2 separate regions of the Homo sapiens genome follow, and region 2 is linked to region 1. The links come from fine-mapping of genetic effects on gene expression. A gene starts in region 1. The other region holds a variant in brackets. All regions are shown on one strand. Distances are from middle to middle.

Evidence for each region. PIP is the estimated chance that this variant, and not a neighbour inherited with it, causes the effect.
Region 2: its variant is fine-mapped to the expression of ADSL in whole blood (TOPMed, PIP above 0.99).

What each region holds. Positions count from the first base shown.
Region 1 is chr22:40,343,640-40,349,016 of GRCh38, reverse strand. It overlaps ADSL (adenylosuccinate lyase), which reads right to left and starts at 2,517. Exons shown (of 13, transcript NM_000026.4): 1 at 2,306-2,517. The coding sequence starts at 2,458. RefSeq lists enhancers at 1,462-1,974, 1,975-2,488, 2,489-3,002 and silencers at 2,175-2,264, 4,645-4,817.
Region 2 is chr22:40,321,431-40,326,807 of GRCh38, reverse strand. TNRC6B (trinucleotide repeat containing adaptor 6B) reads right to left here. Exons shown (of 23, transcript NM_001162501.2): 23 at 1-3,954. The coding sequence ends at 3,567. Among named protein-coding and RNA genes, the nearest start is that of ADSL, 22 kb to the left of the region's middle. The variant C/G (reference allele first, on the strand shown) is at 3,076.

The DNA.
Region 1 (5,377 bases):
TTGCCAGGAAATTATATACAGCAAATGAGTGCAACTGAAAGCAATTCCAGGAGATATTGATGAGAAAATAAACACATTGATGTCTTACATTCATCCATCACTGGAAAAATTAGGCTGCAAAAAATAGCTGGCAGCCCACAGGCAGCTCGGAACTTAGATCCAAGGGCTGAATACAAACAGTGGTGAAACTGATTTAAACCTCACTTGAAACTTGCAAACAGTGACTCCGGGAAGGATCTTGCATCTTAGATCTTTTTTATCCAAGAAAGGAGCTACTAGCCAGATATGGCTATTTAAATTTAAATTGATTAATTAAAAAGTATTGGAAAATATTTATAAGTAAAAAGTCAGGCCAGGTATGGTGGCTCACATCTTTGGGAGGCCAAGGTCGGTGGATCGCTTGAGTCCAGAAGTTCTAGACCGCACTGGAAAACACAGTGAGACCCATCTCTACAAAACAACACAAAAATTTGCCGGGCGTGGTGGCGTGCACCTCTAGTTCCAGCTTGGGAGGCTGAGGTGAGAGGACAGCTTGAGCCCAGGATGCAGAGGTTGTAACGAGCCAAGATTGTGCCACTGCACTCCAGCCTAGGCGACAGAGCCAGACCCAGTCTCAAAACCTAAATATATAAATAAAAGTAAAAAGTCAGTTTCTCAGTCACACTAGCTGCATTTCAAGTACTCGGCAGCCACATGTGGCAGAACTGCCTGGAACCTTTACAGTCACAGAAGACATGACACCTCTGGGCTCCTTCCAAAGCAAAGCAGCAGAGGGCAGCACGGCCATACTGCTTCCTCCCCTCAAGCAATTTATCTTTTCAAAATTCATACTTTCCTTACTACAAATTTTCTGCATTCCTCCTAATCTCTTATTCTCCAAGTTTTTTCTTAGCTACTAAGTTATTATGCAATTTATGGTAATTTTGACACCCTAACAGATAATCCAAAGCCAAAATTGTATGCATTTTAGGCCAACACAAAGAACACATACTCAGACTCTACATTCCAATTCCAGCTTGAAGCCATTTACTAGCTTTGGCGACCCTGGCAAAGTCTTGAGTACCACTACCCTCATCTACAGAATAGAATATCAGATGAAATAGAAAGAGTACACACTAGTACATCACAAACCACAACACATGATTAAGGTCTACTACTATCGCTATCTACGCCAAGAGTTTATTAAGTTGATGCTTCATTCTTCCATCTGTAAAACAGGTACAGTCATAGTATTTCATACCTACTCTTCAGGGTTGTTTGGAGGATTAATAAGCAACCATGTGTAAAGGGTTAAGACCTGGGTCTCAGAAGGCACTATCTGAATGTCTGCTATTATTGTAGTGTATCGCCCAATATTTTGGAGGGCAGTGATAAGGGGAGGGAGGGAATCTAGAATGAAAGTTTCCTGTTTGGAGAGTTCCATGGTACAGGTCCTAGGCCCGAAGTCAAATTGTTTCCATGTTTACTGTGCCGTTTGAGAGGGCATTGCCAACTTGCTCGTTGTGGCACTTTCCTCTGAAACTTGAGGAGAAACATTATCGCTCTCTGGATCACCTTCAGTTTGCTTCAACTCTTCTGGAGCTATTTCTGAAACCGCTGGGCTAAGAAGTTCTCTATGCAGCCCTTAGAAAAGAAATTATAAACCCCGTTTAATAAACCCCTACCCGGAGTCTTCTCCTAAGAGGCAAAGCGGAGGCCAGTGAGGCAGAAACGGTGGCCTAGAAAACAAGCATTCCAGTCCTGTCACTAACTACACAGGCACTGTGGAAAACCAAGGGGCTACGTGCTCAGCTCAGGCTCTGGAGTGCACCCAGGTTCAAATCCCAGTTCCGTTCTTAATAGCTGGATGGGCTAGGGCAAACAACAAGCTGTCCGGGCTTTGTTCTCCCCTGCAATGTGGGAAAAACACCATCAAGCCTGCAAGATCTTCATGGATTACACAAGAAAAGATTAGTGAAATAATGAGCACAACAGTACGAAACAAGCGCTCGGTGTCTGTGGTTAGCAGCGTACTCCTGCGGGGATGGCCAAAATGAATTCCCTGAAACTACAGGCTGAATTTCTCCCAGCCTCCTCCGCGTCTCGAACCCTCTCGGACTGAGAACACGTGAGGCAACAGGTGGCGGCTCCCGGATCTCCTGCCCTTGCTTTCCTGGGGCCGCAGCTCCTCAGGACAGGGAACACCCAGCTGAAAATAGCCGGGCCGCAGCTCCGGGGTGGCTAAGCCCAGCCCGGAACAGAGCCCGGCACGTGCTGGGGCGGGCCCGTCCCTCCCGGCCCAGCCCCTCAGCCCGGGATCCGTTACCTGCTCGGCCTCCGCCAGCCACAGCCACAGCTGCCGCCATGTCCGGAATTTATACCTGTCGCTAAACACGAAGCACATCTCCGGGCTGGCATAGCGGGAGGCAAGAGGTGAGCGGTAGCTGTCGGGCGAACCATGATCGCCTCCAGCCGCCATCCCAACCCTGCGACCCCGCCAGGGTGGACTGGACCAGGGAAGAGCGGAAGCGGAAACCTGGAGGCCAGGGCAGGACGGGGCGGGGCGGGACTTCCTTCACGCGGTCTCGCTCTCTGGGTTCCGGGCGCCCTGGGCGCTGCCGGCTGCGGAGAATCTCCGCTGCTTCTGCCTGAGAATTGACTTGGTTCGCTTCTTTGACCAGAAACATGATTGATGCTTCCTACGTTACTTAGCCGCGCTACACTTTAGTTTTCCTGTCTGAAAAGAGGTACATTAAGACTTCCTTGGCCGGGCGCGGTGGCTCACGCTTGTAATCCCAGCACTGTGGGGGCCCCAGACCGGAGGATCGCTTGAGGCCGACAGATCGAGACCAGCCTGGGCAACACAGGGAGACCCTCCCGTCTCTAAAAAACAAAAAGCAAAAAAAAAAAAAAAAAAAAAGGCCTGCCTTTCGGGTTGTGCGGATTCAGTGTTAGAGCGGTGTCTGGCACACTTGGAAGGCCGTGTGTACGCTTGCTGTTACTCTTATTACTGTCGCCCCACCCACTCCTGCCCGCGGCGCACCGAGCTCGGCTCTAAGGAGAAATGAAGATACCCAAGGGAAATCGGCATTTACTGCGCCCCCAGTGAGCCGGCTGCGGTGGCCTACGCCTGTAATCCCAGCACTTCGGGAGGTCGAGGCAGGCAGATTTCCTGAGCTTAGGAGTTTGAGACCAGCCTGGGCAACACGTGAAACCCTGTCTCTACTAAAATACAAAAAATTAGTCGGGCATGGCGGCCTGTACCTGTAGTCTCAGCTACTTGTGAGGCTGAGACAGGAGAATTTCTTGAACCCGGAAGGCGGAGGTTGCAGTGAGCCAAGATCGCGCCACTGCACTCCAGCCTGGGCGACAGAGCGAGACTCCGTCTCCAAAAAATAAAAGAATTAAATAAATAAATAGAAATAGAAACACTCAAGTGGCCCCCCCCCTTTTTTTTTTTTTTGACAGGGTCTTGCTATGTTGTTCAGTCTGGAGTGCCAGTGGGGTGATCACACAGGAAAGGGTTCATCTGGAGCTGTAAGAGCCAGGTGTCTCAGCTGGGCACGGTGACTCACGCCTATAATCTCAGCACTTTGGAGGCTGAGCTGGGCAGATCGCTTGAGTCCAGGAGTTGGAGACCAGCCTGAGCAACATGATGAAACACTGTCTCTACAAAAAATACAAAAATTAACTGGGTATGGTGGTGTGCACCTGTAGTCCCAGCTACTTGGGAGGCTGAGGTGGGAGAATCACTTGAGCCCAGGATGTTGAGGCTGCAGTAAGCCATGATTTTGCCACTACAGCTTAGGCAACAGTGAGACCCTGTCTCAAAAACAAAACAAACGAAAAGAGCCGGGTGCCTGCACCCTCTCCACCTGCACTTAACTCCTAGCTCTCTGCCTTTTACGTGAGGAATCTAAAGACACTCAAGCCAGGTGTGGTGGCTCACGCCTGTAATCCCAACACTTTGAGAGGCCGAGGCGGGAAGATCGCTTGAGCCCAGTACTATGCTGCTTTGAAATTACTTGTTTCTGAGTGCCTTACTAAAATGAGACCTGTGGAGGAATTCCAATTTTAACTCCCAGTTTATTTGCTGAGAGTTAACTTCACTTTTCCAATAACCATAATATTTCTAGACTATTACAAGTACATGATTAAGGGCCAGGCACGGTGGCTCACACCTGTAATCCCAGCATTTTGGGACGCTGAGGCAGGTGGATCACCTGAGGTCAGGAGTTGGAGACCAGCCTGGCCAACATGGTGAAACCCCATCTCTACTCAAAATACAAAAATTAGCCAGGTCGTGGTGGCAGGTGTCTGTAATCTCAGCTACTTAGGAGGCTGAGGCAGGAGAATCACTTGAACCCAGGAGGTGGAGGTTGCAGTGAGCCGAGATCGTGCCACTGCACTCCAGCCTGGGCAACAAAGTGTGACTCCAACTCAAGAAAAAAAAAAAAAAAGTACATGATTAGATCTCAAGGCTTCAAGATCTTTTCTTTGACAATAACTTCTTTTCCAGTCACCTTCCCATTCCTGCTTTCATTCACAGATTCACTCAAAAACCTATGGAGCACCCATGACAGTGTTCTCCCTCCACACCTCTGGGCTTTCTTAGATGCTGAGTGACCTCCCGGCTTCTTTTTTTTTTTTTTTTTTTTTTTTTTTTGAGACAGAGTCTCGCTCTGTCGCCCAGCCTGGAGTTCAGTGACATGATCTCGGCTCACTGCAAGCTCCCCGTCCCGGGTTCACGCCATTCTCCTGCCTCAGCCTCCCTAGTAGCTGGGACTGCAGGCGCCCACCACCACACCCGGCTAATTTTCTGTATTTTTTTTAGTAGAGATGGGGTTTCACCGTGTTGGCCAGGATGGTCTCGACCTTCTGATCTGCCCTTCTCGGCCTCCCTAAGTGCTGGGATTACAGGCATGAGCCACCGTGCCCGGCCTCTTTTTCTTTTATTTATTTATTTATTTTTTTTTAAGACAGAGTTTCACTCTTGTTGACCAGGCTGGAGTGCAATGGTGTGATCTCTGTTCACCGCAACCTCCACCTCCCGGGTTCAAGCGATTCTCCCTCCTCAGCCTCCTGAGTAGCTGGGATTACAGGCATGCGCCACCACACCTGGCTAATTTTGTTTTTTCGTTGTTTTTTTTTTTTTTTTTTTTTTAGAGACGGGGTTTCTCCATGTTGGTCAGGCTGGTCTTGAACTCCTGACCTCAGGTGATCCACCCACCTTGGCCTCCCAAAGTGCTGGGATTTCAGGCGTGAGCCACCACGCCCGGCTGGATGCTGAGACCTCCTGGCATCTCTTTCAAAACTCTTACCAGAATTCAGTGTTGCTTGCCTTGCTCATTGATGGCAAACTCAGTGGGGCAAGAGATCATGTCTGTGTTCCTGGCAC
Region 2 (5,377 bases), 22 kb after region 1:
CCATAGATAATTTTCCTCTAGTAATGCCTATATTTAAAATTTGTTCCAAAAATTATTAACCTATATTTCCTAACTCTTTACATAGATTCTCAGCAATCCAACTGTACTATTTTACAGATTACTTTTTTTTTTAAGCTGTTGTTTCTTCCTTCCTTCCTTTCTTTTGTTGCTGGGGTTGTGGGGACAAGGAGAAGGGTTCCTTTAAAAAAATAAAAATTACTAGGGGAGATTTCAGTTCAGTCTCAAATGGAAAGGAACAAAGTGATGGCATTCTCATCTATATACACCAAACACTCTCCCATTAAACTACACACAATTTCAAAAGAATCCATGATCGAGCTCTTACAAAGCTTAATCCTTCTCCCATATTTTTAAGATAATGAATTTACCTGTTGCTGCTAAATTGATAATTTTTAAAAAATATTTCTATGTGTTTTAAAATGTGTGATCCCCAGTATGACAATAATGTTTGGAGACTTTTCTTTTTACATTTTTTTAAGTAAAAATTGTTTAAACTTTCTGAAGTTTCAGGAACTTGTAAAAGTTTATTAACAGGAAAGAAACAGCCATCTCTCTAGGATAAGATATGGTTAAATAAACCATCTTCAAAAAACTGGCTTCCTACCCTAGAATTCCTGAGAATGCTTGCAAATTTTAAAGCAGGAAAACAAATGTTAAAAACAGAAACAAAAAACACTGTTAAATGCTCCCAGAGTTAGTCTTCATCTAAAATATATATTTATATGTATATATATACGCACTTTTTGGTCTTTTTTTTTTAAAGTTTTTAGTTTTTTTCCCTTTAAGCTTATGATGGAAGAACATTTTAGCTTCTCATGTTTATTTTTACATATTTCAAATCCCTCATTATGTCTTGTAAACAAGAGGGGCTCTAGCACCCGGCTTTCACCGTAGTATCGTAAGGAACTCAACTAACCCATAGTGCAGGTCAAGGAACCAACAGGCAGGAGGAGAGGAGGGTGGGGCAGGACACAGCAGTGAACCAAGAGCGGCAGTGGACAGGGTCGCCACTGGCTCGCAGGAGCCTTGGGATATGCTCCTGGCCCAGGGACACTAAGATTTAACCTTCTCTAGATGTCTGAATACAAGCTGCTCTTCACCTGGTGGTCACCGCACGACAGCACTTTGCTCCACACAGAGAGCGGTCAGTGGGGGCTGCTGGAAGCAGAGCTTTTGCATGGGGAACAGTGGTGGAAGGGGCACGGTGGTGATTCAAATTGCAGAGCAGGAAGAGGGCATGCTCAAGGCACCCAGCGGGGCCACGTCAATGCTGCAGATGCCAAGTGTGACCACCTACCCACAGAGGGCTCATGCAGGCTTGTATATGTGAACACTCACTTGAGTCATGCCTGTCAATCTCTTTTGAGGCTAGGTTTATAATCAACAGGGTAAGCCAGAAGGGCTACAGAATTTCCCATTCTTTGTCTCACAAAACCACTGAAATGCAAATAACTTGTTTTAGGCTTTTCCTATACACACCCACCCACCCACCTACACACAGACACAAGCTAAAAAGTCAAATACATTAGGCATTGTTGTATTGTATCCTTCACTGAAGACGCTAAAGAAAGAAAAACTCCCTTGTCCTCAATAGCAGCAAGTTACAGAGGACAGTAGAGGTCTGCTCCCACCAAGGGTTGGAATGGGCAGGTATTTGCTGGTACAAAATGTCGGCACTTTATGTTAAACAGCATAATGCAGACTGGGATGTCCACACAAGTGCTAGCACGTCACCGGCATCCATCCCCCCACCCTATCTGGTTTTTCGCCCCCTTCAGGTCTGCTATAATTCTCTTCACAATAAGCAGTTTGATACATTTTGATTCCGACATAAGTACATACATGTTGGTGATAACTGTAGATTAAACGTTGACCCCTGTTCGGCCCAGAGTACTACTACATTGATGCTTAAAAAAAAAAAAAAGTATTTAAATACCGAAATTAAAAAAGCAAAATTACAAGGTGGGGGGAAGAGGTCAAAAATCAAAAAAAGGTGCAATACTTAAAAGTCTTCGCTAAGTTATACCTGCCTAAGCAAAACCACATACACAGGAAATACACAACACAGAGAAACAAAAGGAAACGCTTGAAGTACACACTGGTTTAAGAACATTCGTTAAGTAAACGTTTCTGTCAGTGATGGCCTGGTGCTGTAACGCGCCACGGCCTGGCACAGGTAACGCTCGGCGAGAAAGGAGCAGAGGGAGTAGCTGCAGATGCTTTCAGGAGGCTGCTCACCACTTATTCTTTTCTGTTTTCATAAAATGAAAAAGAGAACCAACCAACAGAAATATGTAACTCAACTTCACCTAATTTTTTGAAGAATTTCTCAAACCTGATCATAAGGAAAGAGGGAACAAAGTTTCTCTGTTTTTGAGACATCGCATCATCAAAAGTTATCTTCCGTTCCCATTTCAAACTAACGAAAAGGCCTGCATGAAACTTAACAGATACTCAGATGTGCCTGGTGGCCATTCACTTAAAAAAAAAAAAAAACAGAAATAAACACACCGTTGCTCCAAGAGGTACCTCCTGCTCTAGTTTTTTGGACTTGGCAGTGCTCCACTCTACTGCTAGGTCAAAAGAACAGCCAGAGAAACCCCACATTCAGGCTAAGTTGCAAATGGAAAGGAGCTCCCTGCTTTCATCATTAAAAAGCACTCTGTTCATCTTAATGCAGCCCAATGGAGTTGCTTTAGTAGCAGTGGCTCTCCGGGCCTGTGTGTTCTCATAGTTAAAAAAATAAAATAAAAAGCAGATGGGCCGGCCAGCCAGCCTGCAGACTGTCAGCGATGCAGCTTTCTGAGAAGTCAGGGTGGGGCAGGGGAGAAGGGAAGAACACAGGCACACACACAGAGACAGAGAAGGATGCACGCGAATGCACATGAACACACGTGCACACACACACCAGAACGAGCATGCCTGGGCAGTTACATGTGCCAGAACACACTGGTATTTATCAACCAGCCAATCACAAATTTTTTCCTTTTTTTTTTTTTTAGGTTTTTTGTGTTTTTGTTTTTAAAGTGAGGCTCCGTCAAGTCTTCCCTCCCC[C/G]CTCCCCCAACAATTCTTTTGAATTTCCCTCCCTCCCAAACATGGTAGACCTAAGGACGGAAACACACCCAGTGCAAACAAAGTTAAAAAGCTATTTTTTTTCAGTATATATGTTTCTTAGCAACAACTTCCATATAACATGAAAAAAGTGAAAAACTAGAAACTAATTTTTTTAATTTTTTTGTGTTTAAATTTAAATGGTATGTGTACTTGCTTCACATTGTCTTTCTAGGTTGGCGTTCATGATTCAAGTATTTCAAGAGTGATATGTTCTCTTTTTGGATTCATATTCCAAACGAAAAAACTGAAGTTATAAGGGAGGCAACTATGTGCTCAGACAGTCTGTCAATGACCCACCTTTTTTTCTCTCCGTTTTCTTTTTTCCTTTTAAAAATGTATTTATTGCAAGTTGAAAAAAAAAACGAAAAGGTCAAGTTAGTGCTGCTGCTGTTCCAAAAAAGGTCACGAGGTCAGAGTTGAAAGTTCTAAGTTCAGATTGAATCCGACCCTCCTCCCAGAAGGTCACCAGGTAGTAAAGGAGCAGGGCTGCCCATCCTATGGGGATCTTCCACCGTTGGGACTCCCCATAAGCTAGAAGAATAGTTTGGGGGCCCCCACAATGAAGCGCCAGCAAGATCGGCCCCGCTGCTGCCACCAGCGCTGCTGCTCCACTGCCCGAGCCCAGTGGACCCACCAAAAAGATTCAGAGCAGGTCCCACGGGATCTGACTGGTTCTGGCCGGTCTCCAGCGACTGCCACCCCGCAGCTGGCGCACTTGGGGTTGCTGCAGGTGTAGGGGGCTGAGCTTGTGCCAGAAAGCGGCTGACTTCATCATCAGTGGCAAACTCAGCAAGGATGGTAGTGTTTCCCAACACACACCTGGAAGAAGGGAGGGAAAGAGAGCTATGGATCTCAGGAAAATCCTAAAGCATACGGAGGGAGCGACTGCAGTCCTTGACATTCAATGTGCAGTCCTTTGACTAGAAGCTGCCATATCCATGAACGCTTTTTAGAATGCAAAGTCCAAGCTCCACCCAAGACCTCTGGGTCCAGAACTTGTATTTCAACCAGACCGCCAGGTAATTAAGAAGTAATGATGTAAACCAACAAGGCATCACCAAAACTCAGGATAACCAAGGACTACTAGAGAATACTATATTCTGATATTTCTTGGTGTATGGAATTTATATATTCTAGACAACTTAGCTATCAAGAAAAACGTGTGTGTCTGTGGGGGGCTAAGAGGGATGACTGAACTGGCAGAGGACTCTGATACTGTAATGGTAGATACCCGTCATTATACATTTGTCCAAAACCATATACTGTACAAGGCCGAGTGAACTCTAATGTAAACTACAGACTTTTGGTGATAAGGAGGGGTTCAGCAATCTTGACAAATGCACCACTCTGGTGGAGGATGTTGATAATAGTGGAGGCTATTCATGTGTGGCAGCAGGAGATATGACAGAAATCTTTGTATCTTCCTCTCGATTTGGCTGTGATCCTAAAACTGCTCTAAAACAAAATAAATAAAGCCTTAGATAAAAAGGAAAGAAAAATATGGTCTCTTTCTTTCCCCATGTGAGTTATGAGGCAAGAGACCATACCCAAAGCATCGAAGCAACCTGGCTTCAGTCCCCGGAAGTGCTGCTCTTTCTCAGGGGCTCCTCGCTGCCTGAGCCCCCTCATCCCTGGCTTGCAGTGTGTCTGGCTTTCTGTCATGGCATCTGCAGCCAAGGGCAGTCAGGTCTTCTCCGTCCACCAGTTTGACAGTGGCAGGGAAGGGGATGGGCAAAGTCTGATCTAGCGCCACCTAATTTAAGCAAAGACCCTGCTACCCCCCAAGACCACAATATTTCATCATCTGCAAAGAGGCTGGAGTAAGCAGCTAGATTCTATTATGAAAAACAATGGCAATTCTATTAGCTGTGTGTTTTTTTTCTTTTTTGAGATGGAATCTTGCTCTGTCACCAGGCTGGAGGGCAGTGGCATGATCTCAGCTCACTGCAACCTCTGCTTCCCAGGTTCAAGCGATTCCCCTGCCTCAACCTTCCCAGTAGCTGGGACTACAGGCATGCGCCCCCACGCCTGGCTGATTTTTTGTGTTTTAGTAGAGACAGGGTTTTACCATGTTGGCCAAGATGGTCTCCATCTCCTGACCTTGTGATCTGCCCGCCTTGGCCTCCCAAAGTGCTGGGATTACAGGCATGGGCCACTGTGCCCGGCCCTAGCTTTATGTTACTTAGAATTTACTCACTACTTCACAAATTATTTACGTTTGGAATTCTGACGACTGGCCTCT